Linked DNA regions of Homo sapiens. The protein of the gene in region 1 interacts with the protein of each later gene in a biochemical or structural test. Each region holds a gene or a part of one and is shown in the gene's direction. Other genes may lie near its edges.

Region 1 (3,500 bases):
TGTGGGGCCTTAACTGCCTGAGGAGCTCTAGATCAGTGAGGTAAGCGGTACCCTTCCTTACCACTGAATTAGAAATAATGTTTGTTTGCTTATTGTAGTTGATATTGTAAACATATAGCTGATTATTTGAATAACTGACTTTATATTAAGTGACAATTCTTGAATAATTAGCTGGCATATTTTTGAAGCAGGGGATTACTGTATTTATTTTAATTAGCTAATTACAGCAGACATGGATTTTTTTTCATGTGCTCTGCGGTGAATGTTGCCACCCATGTGTGAGACAGTGAGTCATCTCTGCTATGGAGTGATTAACATTATTGCATTAGAATGTTGTTTGGTTTCAATTTTCACATTTTAGGGCAAAGTATCTAGAGATAATAAAAATTTATTTAAGAAGCGCCAGGCGCGGTGGCTCACGCCTGTAATCCCAGCACTTTGGGAGGCCGAGGCGGGCGGATCACTAGGTCAGGAGTTCGAGACCATACTGGCTAACACGGTGAAACCCCATCTCTACTAAAAATACAAAAAATTAGCCAGGTGTGGTGGCAGGTGCCTGTAATCCCAGCTACGCGGGAGGTTGAGGCAGGAGAATAGCGTGAACCCAGGAGGTGGAGCTTGCAGTGAGCCGAGATCGCGCCACTAAAAAAAAAAAAAATTAAGAAGCATACACAATAGTACCAAGGAGGAAAATAAATAAAATCTTTAATCTCAAGAAGAGGAAAAAGGTATAAGTAGATATATCAGTAAAATATATGAAGAGTTATTATGAGTCTAATTGTTAGACAGCTGTCTTTATCCGTCTCAGAAAAGACTCAGAAATGGACTTAACTTGTAGCAAGAGTTTGACTAACCATTTAAAAAGAACTAATTAACTGTAAGAGTAGAGAATAAATATCAGACTAGTCTTTATACAATCTTTATCAAGATAATGTTTTGATTTTGGCCACTTTCTCATCACCAAATAAATGTTTTTAGTGCCTAAGCTGTGAGACCCTATATTAACATTAGTCTAAATAAGATAACGTTCATGAAAACACTTTGAAAATTATAAAACAGTAGGCCAATGTAAGGTGCTATTGTTGTTAGGGATTAAATTTTTATATGGATAGCTATTTTTGGTTTTAAAAAATTGAATACTTTAGAACATGTGGAAAAGGGCAAAAAAATTGAATACTGATTTTTCAGTTGAGTTAGATAAGCTGTTGTCAAATGTCATAAGTCATTATAGGCCCTTTATTGATGGAAATTCAGACATAACACGATCAATTTTTATTTAAGAGAAAGATCAATCAAATATTTAAAAACTGTTTTCTCACTTGATTTTTAAAACCCATATTGGTCTTTACATGATAAAAAACAGAAGTATATTTGTTCTGAGGGAATTTTAAAGAAACATTGAAAATTAGGCTTATCATAACAATATATGTCAGTCCACAAAAATAGTCAGTTGCAGAGGCTCCAGGTTGCTTCACGTGCTTTGTCAAGCACACACAGAGCATACCCTGTTTGGAATATGAAAGCATGCGAAGTATTTACTCTTCTTTATTTGGATGTGACAGAAGTCATCAGCTGGAAGCCTTATAATTAAGCGAACTTTTATTTCAGAATCTCCAATCCATGTTTTAATTCCAATTTTTCAGGATCTTCAACAACTGCAACAGCTTCAACAGCAGAATCTCAACCTGCAACAGTTTGTGTTGGTGCATCCAACCACCAATTTGCAGCCAGCGCAGTTTATCATCTCACAGACGCCCCAGGGCCAGCAGGGTGAGCTCCTCCTTAGAGCTTATTAGTGGTATACCAAGGCTGTTCGCTGAATGTTACACATGCATGAACTACTATCATTTTGGCCCTGAAACTATTAGACCAATGTTTTTATTAAATTTTATTTGATTATAAACTTTCGTTTAAAAAAAGTTTTGTTTTGTTTTTTGTCATAAATACCACATTATTGAAGGTTGCCCTGAACTGCCATTCATCTGCTTAATCACTAAGGAAGAACCAAGAGTTTGGCCAAAAGTCTAAGTGAAATTATTCAACATGCCAAACATAAATTGGATAAGTTGCTGCTAGTGTTTTGATTGTTTTTCATGGAAGTGTATTCAAAGAATATAGACTGAGTGTTGAAAGTATGTGCTTCTAACCATTGTTTTTTTAATTTAAGGAGGGAAGACTGCTATAATAGAAACTACAAATTTCGTGAGTTATAAAAAACATCTTTGAGTCATTTGAGTGGTAAATGTTATATAATTAATATATCAAACAACCACTCGTCTGTAAGGTCAGTTAATGTAATCAGGGTGAAGAATGTCAGAGTATCAAGGCTTCAACCCAAGGAACATTAGTGCATCACTAATGATTCTTTATTATTTCTGAGTGGGTTTTTTTGCCTTTTTTCTTCTTGATCATTCATTCCAAAATCTTTTGTCATGAAATAATTATTCTAGCATATATTCAAGATTCAGAGATAAGTAATTCAGTATTTACTTGCAGAGGGCTCACAATTTAGTGGCAGGGAAACAGACCTAAATTATGTTAGATTTGATATGCACACAATGCTATGGGAACCAAGCAAAGAGACCCCTGTAACTTTGTGCTCAGATAAGTCTTCACAGTGAATTTGGGAAAATACATTCATAGGCTTACAAAAGAGAGAATGTCAGTCTTGGAAAATGAACAGCATTTGCAAACCTTAGAAACATGGAAGAAAAATCAATAAGCTGTGTTTGAGAACTATAAGTAGTGCCTTACAACTGCAGAATAAGTTTGCATATGCAGGTAATAGTGAAATTTGAACCCAGAAAGATTAGCAGAGACCAGATCATTAAAGAACCTTAGATTAAGTTTCCAGGAGTTTGACCTTAAATCCTATAGCTTAGTGCTTCCTAAGATTTGATTTATTTAAGAGTCATTAATGGCCAGGCGTGGTGGCTGACGCCTGTAATCCCAGCACTTTGTGAGGCCGAGGCAGGCAGATCACGAGGTCAGGAGATCGAGACCATCCTAGCTAACACAGTGAAACCCCATCTCTACTAAAAATACAAAAAAAATAGCCAGGCGTGGTGGCAGGCGCCTGTAGTCCCAGCTACTCAGGAGGCTGAGGCAGGAGAATGGTGTGAACTGGGAAGGCAGAGCTTGCAGTGAGCCAAGATTGAACCACTGCACTCCAGCCTGGGTGACAGAGTGAGACTCCGTCTAAAAAATAAAAAAATTAAAAAATCACTTGAGGAATTAGAAAAGTTTCCTGAGCCCTAACCCCAACCTCCCAATTACTTTTTTTCTTATTTTTAAACTATTAGGTTCAGGGTTACACTCAGGTTTGTTATGTAGATAAACTACATGTCATAGGGATTTGATGTACAGATAATTTCATCACCCAGGTAATAGGCATAATACCTGATAGGTAGTTTTTTCGATTCTCATCCTCCTCCCACCCTCTACCCTCAAGTAGGCCCTGGTGGCTGTTGTTCCCTTCTTTGTGTACATATGTACTGAAA
Region 2 (3,527 bases), on another chromosome or scaffold:
GGAAGTTCCTAGAAAGGTGTTTGGCTTTTTGGTTTTTGAGGGTTGGGGTAAAGAAGACTTCCCCCACAACTGTCAGCACAAAACAGGGTATTGATTTTTAACTCTGATGTTTCTATTGGAGTTGAATACTAAATAAATAACTATAATGAGGGAAATACATTTCTAATAAAATTCCCTACATTCTAGAAACATCCCTGTTTTAATTTTTTTATCTAAATCTTTTTGTGCTTTATGTGTAAAGAAAAAAATGTACTGAGTTACAATGCATTTTATTAACACTATGTACATAATAGCTGCTTTGTGTTCAGAATAGTAGCAGTTGCTTTGTATATTAAAGTGATCCTTGTGAATTTGTGAAATATTGTCATAAAGTGCTTTTTCTTACTGTAATCTTTGTGGTATCAACTGTCATAATGCTCTTTTTACACAAACATTTATGTGCAGTCACATAAACATGCTTTTAAAAACTCTGTAAGTCTCTTTTTTGGGGATGGGATCTCTATATTTTGTTGGGTTTTTTTTGCTAGTAGTGTGAAGCCATGTTTTATTGGACTTAAAGTTACAATATATTACAAGCTTGTGTTGGAAGGCAGCAAAACTAATTCAGACAACAACATGTCTTCAGTTACTGGATCCCTAATTTTCAGGACAAAACCTGTTTTTCAATAAGATTGAACAGTGCCTATTTGTGGATTTGGAGATGTTACTGTCAAGATGACTAATGGAGACATACGACCAGCTGTGTCTGATGTCATAAAACACGTGTTCACTGAAAGGACAATAAGACTATATACCTTCTCAGGTCCCCTTGCAATTCTAAAACTCTGTGATCATATAAATTGGAAGGAAAGGGGAGGGGATATGGTTAATCTTTGCTTAAGCTGTAAGAATAAAAAAGTTATCTCCTATACTATTAACTTCTGAAATAAGTTCTGAGACGAGACATCTGAAAATAAGCAGCTGCATTATTTGTATGTTTCTTCACTGCCAAGATGTGTTCAAGCCTGCTATACCTGCCATTGTATTGGAAGGCTTAATGAATTTCATTTATTTTCTGCAACAACGATTACAGAATTTATTGCACAAAATGAGACATTTTGAGAGTGATATTAATTACATGAGGGACAATAGGCATGAACTAGGATTGTTCTAAGCAAATCGGAATCGGGTCACCCTGCCACGTTCAGGTGCTTGGACCTTCAGGAAAAGATTGCCCATCTTGTCATTTGACCAGGCACTGAAGTGACAAGACCATCCTTGAGAAGTCACATCCAAAGATAAAATTCTGATCCATTTCTAGTTTTAGTGTTTCGCCACTGAAGACTTAACATATGTCTTTTACACTCAGGTTGCAAAACACAGGCCCAAGACAAACTTAACTTCTCCCCCAAATCTTCCTTCCGCTGGTTTTTCCATCTCGTAAGTGGTGCCACTATCCATCTGTTAAATTGTTTAGGGGAAACCTAGAAAAGCACTACCTTAATCAGTGTTATCCTTCTTCTTAACTGTGCGTCCTAATTTCTCCACATCTTTCTTAAGTGCAGTGACCAAACCGGATGAGAATTCTAACACGGGCCTGACATCAAATGGAAAGGAAGGATAATGTCCAGGAGTTGGAATGTTATCCTTGTTTTTAATTAAGATGCAATTCACATAAATTAACTTTTTAAGTGAACAATTAAGTGGTAGTACATCCACAATGGTGTACAACCACCACTTCTATCTAGCTCCAAAACATTCTCATCACTCCAAAAGTAAAGTCCCGTTACTCTCCATTTTCTCCTCCCACCGCCCTTGTCCCTGGCAACCACCAATCTGCTTCCTGTTTCTTTGGATTTACATCCGGGTATTTCATGTGAGACTCATACACTGTGTATTACTTCTTTCGTCTAGCTTTAATGTGTTGTTGAGGTTGATCCATTGTAACATGTTATCACTACTTCATTCCTTTTTATAGCTAAGTATACTTTTTATAGTAAGTATGCCATTGTAGATATATACCACAAGTTTATCGATTCATCCAGTTGAGTTGTTTCTACTGTTTGGCTAATGTTCATAGTGCTGTTATGAATGTTCGTGTACAAGTATTTGAGTCCGTGTTTTCAATTATTTGGGGTATATGCCTGGGAGTGGAGTTGCTGGGTCATGTTGAAATCGCACATTTAACTTTTTGAGGAACTGTCAAACTTTCCCTCAGCAGCTGTACCGTTTTACCTTCCACCATTGATGTATGAGGGTTCCAATTTCTCCACACCTTCACCAACACTTATTTTGCCATTTTAAAAATTATAGCCATCCTCATGGGTGTGGTCTCTCATTGTGGTTTTGATTTGCATTTCCCTGATTACTAATGATGTGGAGCATCTTTTGTTGTCTTTGGCCATCTGCGTATCTTCTTTGAAGAAATGTCTGTTGAGGTCCTTTGTTCATTGAAATTTTGTTGTTGGGTTCTGAGTTCCTTATATATTCTGGGTACTAGGCCCTTATAATATTTTCGCCTATAAGTTTTTGCTTTATAATGTCCTCATTGTTTTCAAACTTACTTTATGTAATATGTACACTTCTAAAAAAAAGAAACATGGAAAAGGGCAAACTGTAAGAAGTTTTTTGTGTTATGTTTTTTGTGACAGTCTGTGCATATATACACAAATATAATGTATGTTCTCTCCTCCTCCCTCTCCCTTTTTTTACACAAAAGGTAGGTACAAACAGTGGTTTATAAACTGCTGCCATTGTACAGATACAGTTTAACCAGTCCTCTTCTGGGGACATTTGGCTGTTTGAAATTTTTTACTGTTACAGATATACAGAGGTTGGTAACTAGGTCTACACAAGTTGTATCTCCAGGATACTGAGAAGTAAAAGTTATTTCTGAATTATGGTTTTCTTCATATTTGGATATTGTTTCCTAATGATTATTAGGTATCTGCTAAGCAATTTTTATTAACTTATGTTGATTACTATTTTTATGTCAAACTTTACAGTCTAGGCATTTTTTTCTGGAATTAAAATTAGAAGTGGCACAGACTTTCATAAGGCTTTCCTTTTCTCATCTCTGTTAATACTGTTTTCTTTCTAATATCCTCAGAAATAACTGTTCTTAGCAAAGAAACAAGTTTTCAATATGCCATCTTTTCTAGTGTTACTAAATTTTTAACCCCTCTGGTTGTAGAAGGAAAGGTGTAACATGATTTTAGAGCAGAAAGCTAACAATTAAATCTTCAAGTTGGGCCGGGGTGCGGGTGGCTCACGCCTGTAATCCCATCACTTTGGGAGGCCGAGGCAGAGGAGGGCAGATCACCTGAGGTCAGGAGTTCGAGACCAGCCTGACCAACATGGTGAAACCTCATCTCTACTAAAAAATACAAAAATTAGCCAGGCATGGTGGCAGGCGCCTGTAATCCCAGCTACTCGGGAGGCTGAGGCAGGAGAATCACTTGAACCCAGGAGGCGGAGGTTGCAGTGAGCCGAGATTGCGCCATTGCACTCCAGCCTGGGCGACAGAGCAAGGCTCCCGTCTCAAAAAA
Region 3 (3,500 bases), on another chromosome or scaffold:
TCCCAAGGCTATAAATACCTCGGCTGGCGTCGGCCCTGGCCATGGAATGTCGGTCAGAACTGGGGCGAGTGGGGGTGGGCTGGTCTGCCTGGGCACCTCCCTCCGTTCCCCTGCGAGTGACCCCTGAGACTCTCTGTACCCCACTTTGGATGGAGTGGCAGCTGGATCCCACCTCTCTGTAGCAAGGGAGGCCCAGGCCACGGCCCAGCCAAGGCCCCAGAGGCACCAGAAAAAGGTCAGGCTCTGGGTTGGAACTGCACCCCACTTTCCACCAAGTATCTCCCCAGAAATCACCTGAACCCACCCCGGTGAGACGGGCGTCTCTGTATAACTCTCCCCTCTCTCCCTTTCAGTGAAAGAATTCTTAGCCAAAGCCAAAGAAGATTTTCTTAAAAAATGGGAAAGTCCCGCTCAGGTAAGGCTGCCGGGTGCAGAGCCCAGGGAGGGGTGAGCTGCTAACCCCCAGCCCCTGGCTGTGTCCCAGCAACACAGCTAGAATTTCAGAAACCCCATAGAAGGCTTCAGACCCTCCCCATTTGCTCCCTAGGTGCCCATGGGGGCTCCTGTGTGGAGACACCTGACTGCCCAATGCCAGGCACCCCCATCCCACCACCCCTCCCAACGGCCCGCCCCTGCCCCCAGCACAGCTGCCAGCAGCTTCCAGGCCCCAGGCCAGGGCCGGATCTGGCCCCTGCCACCCGCCTTAAGGAATGTGCCCTCTGCCATCTTGATTTTCCGCCCCCTGTCCTCACCCCGCTGACCCCACGTGCTCCCCGGGGCCCCCTCTGCCGGTGGCAGAGGGGATGCCCCAGACCTTAGCCAAGCAGGCCGCGGGGAGGGCGTGCCCTGAGCCTACCGACCCCTCTGCCCACAGAACACAGCCCACTTGGATCAGTTTGAACGAATCAAGACCCTCGGCACGGGCTCCTTCGGGCGGGTGATGCTGGTGAAACACAAGGAGACCGGGAACCACTATGCCATGAAGATCCTCGACAAACAGAAGGTGAGGTGGCCTGTCCTCGCTCAGGGCCTGCCTGTCAGGCCTTTGCCTGGACTGTGCCCACTCCTTAGAGTGCCCTATCCACCCGTTCACTCACTTGCTTTTTTTTGATTCAGAGTCTCGCTCTGTCGCTCAGGCTGGAGTACAGTGGCGTGATCTCGGCTCACTGCAACCTCCACCTCCCTAGTTCAAGCGATTCTCCTGCCTCAGCCTCCCGAGTAGCTGGGATTACAGGCGCCTGCCACCACACCCAGCTAATTTTTGTATTTTTAGTAGAGATGGGTTTTCGCCATGTTGGCCAGGATGGTTTCGAATTCCTGACCTCAGGTGATACACCTGCCTCAGCCTCCCAAAGTGCTGGGATTACAGGCGTGAGCCACCGCGCCTGGCCGCTTGGTTTTTTTGTGGGGGACAGGATCCTGCTCTGTTGCCCAAGCAGGAAAGTGCAGTGACGTGATCATAGCTCACTGTAGCCTCAAACTCCTGAGCTCAAGAGATCCTCCTGAGTAGCTGGGACTACAAGCGCACACTACCATGCCTGGCTAATTTTTTTTTGTTGTTTGTTTGTTTTTTGTTTTAGACAGGGGGTCTTGCTGTGTTGCCCAGGCTGGTCTTGAACTCCTGGCCTCAAGTGATCTCCTACTTCAGCCTCCCAAAGCACAGGGATTACAGGCATGAGCCACCATGCCAGGCTCACCCACTATTCCCCGAGCCCCCATAATGTGCCAGCCCCAGGGGTCAGAAGGGCCCTGTGCCGCCTTCCCAAAGCTCCCTCTCCAGGCCGGCCATGGATTCAAAGCCAGGCACTGTGACACAGGGTCAGACACCAGCCCAACAGGAGGAGAACAAGAGCACTCTTGGGGGAAGTGGTGTTTATGTGCACTTTCTTCCCGTAAATATTTTTGTGATCGGACTTTATACCAGGCACTGCTATAAAGCAGCAATGTAACTAGCAGAAATGTAACCTGAGCCACAGAAGCAATTTTAAATTTTCTGTTTGCTCCATCATAAACAGTAAAAACAGCCAAGCACGGTGGCGCACGCCTGTAGTCCCAGCTACTAGACAGGCTGAGGTGGGAGGATCACTTGAACCCAGGAGTTCAACTCCAGCCTCGACAACACAGCCAGACCCCATCTCTAAAAAAACACCCAAAGTTTGTAATTAAAAGAGAAAATGAAAGAAACAGGTGTCATTCATGAAATTCATTTTAATGACATGTTTGGGGCTTTTTTTTATGTTTTTTTTTTTTTGAGACAGAGTCTCACTCTTGTCGCCCAGGCTGGACTGCAGTGGCGTGATCTCAGCTCACTGCAACCTCCACCTCCCAGGTTCAAGTGATTCTCCTGCCTCAGCTTCCCAAGTAGCTGGGATTATGGGTGCCACCACCACGCCCAGCTAACTTTTGTATTTTTAGTAGACTTGGGGTTTCACCATGTTGGTCAGGTTGGTCTCGAACTCCTGACCTCAGGTAATCCGCCCGCCTCAGCCTTCCAAAGTGCTGGGATTACAGATGTGAGCCACCACACCTGGCCTAATGATATGTTTTAATTAAGCCAGTATATCTACAGTATTACCCTTTCCATATATTATCAATGTGAAAATATCATTAATGAAACATTTTACATTCCTTTTGTTTTTTTCCCAGTCCTCCATGACTTCGGAAATATTTCCTTTTTTTCTGTACTGAAGTATCTTTAAAATCCAGTGTCTATTGTATGCTTACAACAGTTCTCAACTCTGATGGTAAATTTTTCCTGGAAAGATAAGAAAAAGCAGGGAAGTTGAAAAAGCAGATTCACATGCCCAAGTTGTTCCAACCATGCCTGAAAGTCACCAGTACCTGCATCAAGAGTTTAATTTTTGTTTTGTTTTGTTTTGTTTTGTTTTTGAGATGGAGTTTCGCTCTTGTTGCCCAGGCTGGAGTGCAATGGCATGATCTCAGCTCACTACAACCTCTGCCTCCGGGTTTCAAGCGATTCTTGTGCTCCAGCCTCCTGAGTAGCTGGAATTACAGGCGCCGGCTACCACGCCCAGCTAATTTTTTAATTTTTTTTTTTTTTTTTTTTGAGATGGAGTCTCGCTCTGTCGCTCAGGCTGGAGTGCAGTGGCACGATCTTGGCTCACTGCAACCTCTGCCTCCCGGGTTCACGCCATTCTTCTGCCTCAGCCTCCTGAGTAGCTGGGACTACAGGCGCCCACCACCACGCCTGGCTAATTTTTTGTATTTTTAGTAGAGATGGGGTTTCACCGTGTTAGCCAGGATGGTCTCCATCTCCTGACCTTGTAATCCACCGGCCTCGGCCTCCCAAAGTGCTGGGATTACAGGCGTGAGCCACCACACCTGGCCAGTTTTTAAATATTTTTAGTAGAGACAGGGTTTCACCATTTTGGCCTGGCTGGTTGTTGTTTTTTTTTTTTTTTTTTTGAGACGGAGTCTCGCTCTGCCACCCAGGCTGGACTGCAGTGGTGTGATCTCAGCTCACTGCCAGCTCCACCTCC
Region 4 (3,148 bases), 2.5 Mb from region 1:
GTGGCCTGAATAATTGCCATGTTAAGTTAATGCAAAAGATCAGAACAGGGCTACATTTGCACAGGCAGTTTCTCTCCGGGCCGTAGTTTTCACTGATGATCACCTTTCACAGCATTTTCCCCAACCAGCATTTCACTTAGTCTTCTCTATACCCAGCACCTCCCCCGGCACCCCCGGCAAGCCCACTATCACTTCCGACTTCCAACGTGGCATCCGTGAGATCTGTCCACATTAGGCGAAGCAGGAGAACACTGAGAGCAGCAGGATGGGTTTGGAAAGAGCATGCCTCTGGAAACACAGCTTCCTGGGAATTCACATGAGGCCAGTCCTACAGAGAGCAAGATGCACCCCAGGATTTCTTCATTTTCTAATAGATGTGGGAGTGCTCCATTTTCCCCGACAGCGAATTTCCCCTGAGAAACGATACTAGACCCTGGGTTTGCCCACCTTGTAACTCTTCCTTATCTCCTCCTTTTCATCCCTAATCCATCCTCCCTCTGGCATGGAATTGACGCCCGTGCAGTACATTTGCCAAGTGGCACCTTCTTTCAATTTATGTTTTATTTTGCTATGGTGGTGATTCTTTATTTGCTGGTTGTCTTTTCTCACACATCTTTCTCTCTGTCTCTCTCTTTCCTGCTCTTTGTTTTTCTGCCCAGAAAAACCTGACTTCGATACCAAAAAAGATGAAACTACAGAAACTCAAATTTAAAAAAAACTTTAAAAGAAACAAAAAAATACTCAACGATTCTTTCAGCTTTATTAACATTTTCCATTGTTTCTTGCGACTTGTGTCTCGTTCTTTGTAGTATTGATGATGAACATTTGATAATGAATGTTCTTGTATATTCAGATAAAGAAAAAAAAAACCAAAAAAGCGGTCTGAATTTAATAGTGTTTATAATAAAAATTTTAAAAATGACCCTCATAGCACGCAAAACAGGATGGGGAATTTCCCCTCTTCTTTCTGTGACAATGCGCATCATTCCTGCATTAGTTTTTAACACCAGACTACCTACATTCATCATTTCCCTCATTTTTCTTTTATTTTCTTGCATTTGTGAATTAGTTCAAGAATGCTAGAAAAGTGTCGAGTTGTGCACATCCATTTCTTGTTTCACAATGTTTAAAAGTGACAGTAATTCATTTTGTAAACTAAAAAAAAAAAAAAAAAGGTTGGAATAGTGAGCATAATAGGTACAACCTAACACATTATTATGTTTATTAACTTTGAGACCCAGAAATAAATTCTTTTCTTTTCTTGATTCTTGCTCTTAAAAATACAAAAAAAAAAATGTTTTGTTTTGTGTTATTTTTGGTTTGTTTATTGGGGGGCTTTTTTTAATTGTCAGGATTATGATCTTGCTGTTTTTCTTCAATATGTATACAAGGTGATGTGAAAAGATGACTTGGGCAGAGGAGTAAGAACAAGTAGGCTTGTTCTTCTACTTTGCTTCAGAATTCAGTTAATGCCAAAAGCGAAGATCAAGCCCATGTTGATGTCTCGTTGCTCACCTGCATTTCCAGAGAGTGTGACACTCATGCAGTCCCTGAGAAAAATAAAATCAGGGACATACTTCTCCTTTTAGCCTTTTAAAAATTCAAAAACGTTTAGTCCAAGGGAACTTTTTATGCTATCAGGAAAGGTTTTTGCTGTTTTTGATTCTGATTATCACAGCCAAGTACTTTGTTTTATTTCTCCCTAATTAATAACTACATTCCATGAGGCCTCTTCCAACCAAAGAGGCCTTTTCTTCCAGGAGAGTCCCGCAGGAGATGCTGGTATGATGGGCACCATTGGTTAAGTAAACTACATGCAGGAAGAAGTCCTTGGGGCCAGTCTGCCAGCTGAGTCCTGGTTTTGGATGAAGAGTTAATGAGATATTGGGCCAGGCTCAATGCTGTAGTTTTAATGCTAAGAGGTTACGTTTACTTCACAGAGTACACCTCTTAGTAACCTCTGACTTAGGCAGCTGCTTAAAGCAAATTGCAAAACTGGCTTGATTTGGAATGTTTTTATTAGAGGAAAAAAGAAAGCCATATTATCTGGAAAAAAATTCATTTTAAATACCATCATTCAACAAATTATGTTCAGAAAGTGGTCAGAACTTAAGCAAGAAAAGTAAAGAAAGAATGCAGAATTGTGGAGCAATGCTTTAGGAAATATTTCTACCTGAACACTTGTACTCTTGAAGTCACAACAAAATAATGATGAGCTTTTCACATCACCTTTATGGTTTCAATCCCTAGCTCAAAGCTTCCTGGAATCTTTTATTTTTTGTAAACTTTTTTTTCTTTTGTTAAAATAAATAAAACATTCAATGTTTTTCTCCTTTTCTCTCTTATTACTTCTTTCCTTTGGCATTTTCAATTTGAAATGCTTTCCTTTGGTTGTTGGTTTTATTCTCCCCCTACCCCTCCCCTTTTCTTATTATTCAGAATATAAACCTGCAAAGCTCTGCTCTGTTTTGGTTTTGAAAGTTTAAGCTTTTCTGCTTCTGTGAGAGCACAGGCTTCTGTCCCTTTTGATTCCAACTGAACTTTTGTGTTCTCTAATGATACTAACACGGTGTAGGTTTTACAGTCTCCTAATTTGTACTGGTAATGCATATTCCAAATAAATAGTTTCTTTTGTTGCAAAAAAAAATACTTGTATTTTGTGCACATTTCTTTTCTTACATGCTGGCAACTTCTCTTTCCCCAAACTAGGCCTGCATTAGTGTAGATTATGGTTTAAACTGTTGCCCTAATCACTGAAAAGTCTACATACTATGGTGGTGGGGCAGAGACCTTATGGACCACCTTCTTCACTCAGGAAATAAGAAGGAAGGAAGGAAGGATCATTTGTGGGTAAACAATAGCTGTATTACAGAGGGACAGAGCACCCCATCTTGTCTGCTTGCTACTGGCAGCCATCCACCAAGCACCAGTTCAGAGAAATGCCAGGAGTATTTTCCATAATAAATTCTAAGTTCCTAAGTCATGGCTGTTTGCCCAGTGATTCTCCTTTTCTTCTCTTTGTCTGCTGTGATCTGGTCATAAGAAAAATTGTGGTTCCCAAGAGATATTTCAGGGGAAGGAATCTAGGTTACAAATAATACCCAGTTGTAGGCTCTCAGGAGTGTGATAGATGTTACTCCCAACAGAT

What was found. Proteins that work in one complex are often made in the same cells at the same time.
Region 2: the proteins of POU2F1 (region 1) and CREB1 form a complex in vitro, tested with the Homo sapiens proteins (one study listed by BioGRID).
Region 3: of the proteins of POU2F1 (region 1) and PRKACA, one has a biochemical effect on the other in vitro, tested with the Homo sapiens proteins (one study listed by BioGRID).
Region 4: the proteins of POU2F1 (region 1) and PBX1 form a complex in vitro, tested with the Homo sapiens proteins (one study listed by BioGRID).

The regions. Positions count from the first base shown.
Region 1 is NC_000001.11:167,374,386-167,377,885, forward strand, and holds part of POU2F1 (POU domain, class 2, transcription factor 1), read left to right. Parts: intron 1-1,643; coding exon 1,644-1,770; intron 1,771-3,500. UniProt on the Homo sapiens protein: Transcription factor that binds to the octamer motif (5'-ATTTGCAT-3') and activates the promoters of the genes for some small nuclear RNAs (snRNA) and of genes such as those for histone H2B and immunoglobulins.
Region 2 is NC_000002.12:207,602,962-207,606,488, forward strand, and holds the end of CREB1 (cyclic AMP-responsive element-binding protein 1), read left to right. Parts: 3' UTR 1-3,027; downstream 3,028-3,527.
Region 3 is NC_000019.10:14,104,263-14,107,762, reverse strand, and holds part of PRKACA (cAMP-dependent protein kinase catalytic subunit alpha), read left to right. Parts: coding exon of another isoform or gene 1-52; intron 53-353; coding exon 354-415; intron 416-874; coding exon 875-1,003; intron 1,004-3,500.
Region 4 is NC_000001.11:164,849,184-164,852,331, forward strand, and holds the end of PBX1 (pre-B-cell leukemia transcription factor 1), read left to right. Parts: 3' UTR 1-156; coding exon of another isoform or gene 157-219; 3' UTR 220-2,648; downstream 2,649-3,148. UniProt on the Homo sapiens protein: Transcription factor which binds the DNA sequence 5'-TGATTGAT-3' as part of a heterodimer with HOX proteins such as HOXA1, HOXA5, HOXB7 and HOXB8. Binds to the DNA sequence 5'-TGATTGAC-3' in complex with a nuclear factor which is not a class I HOX protein.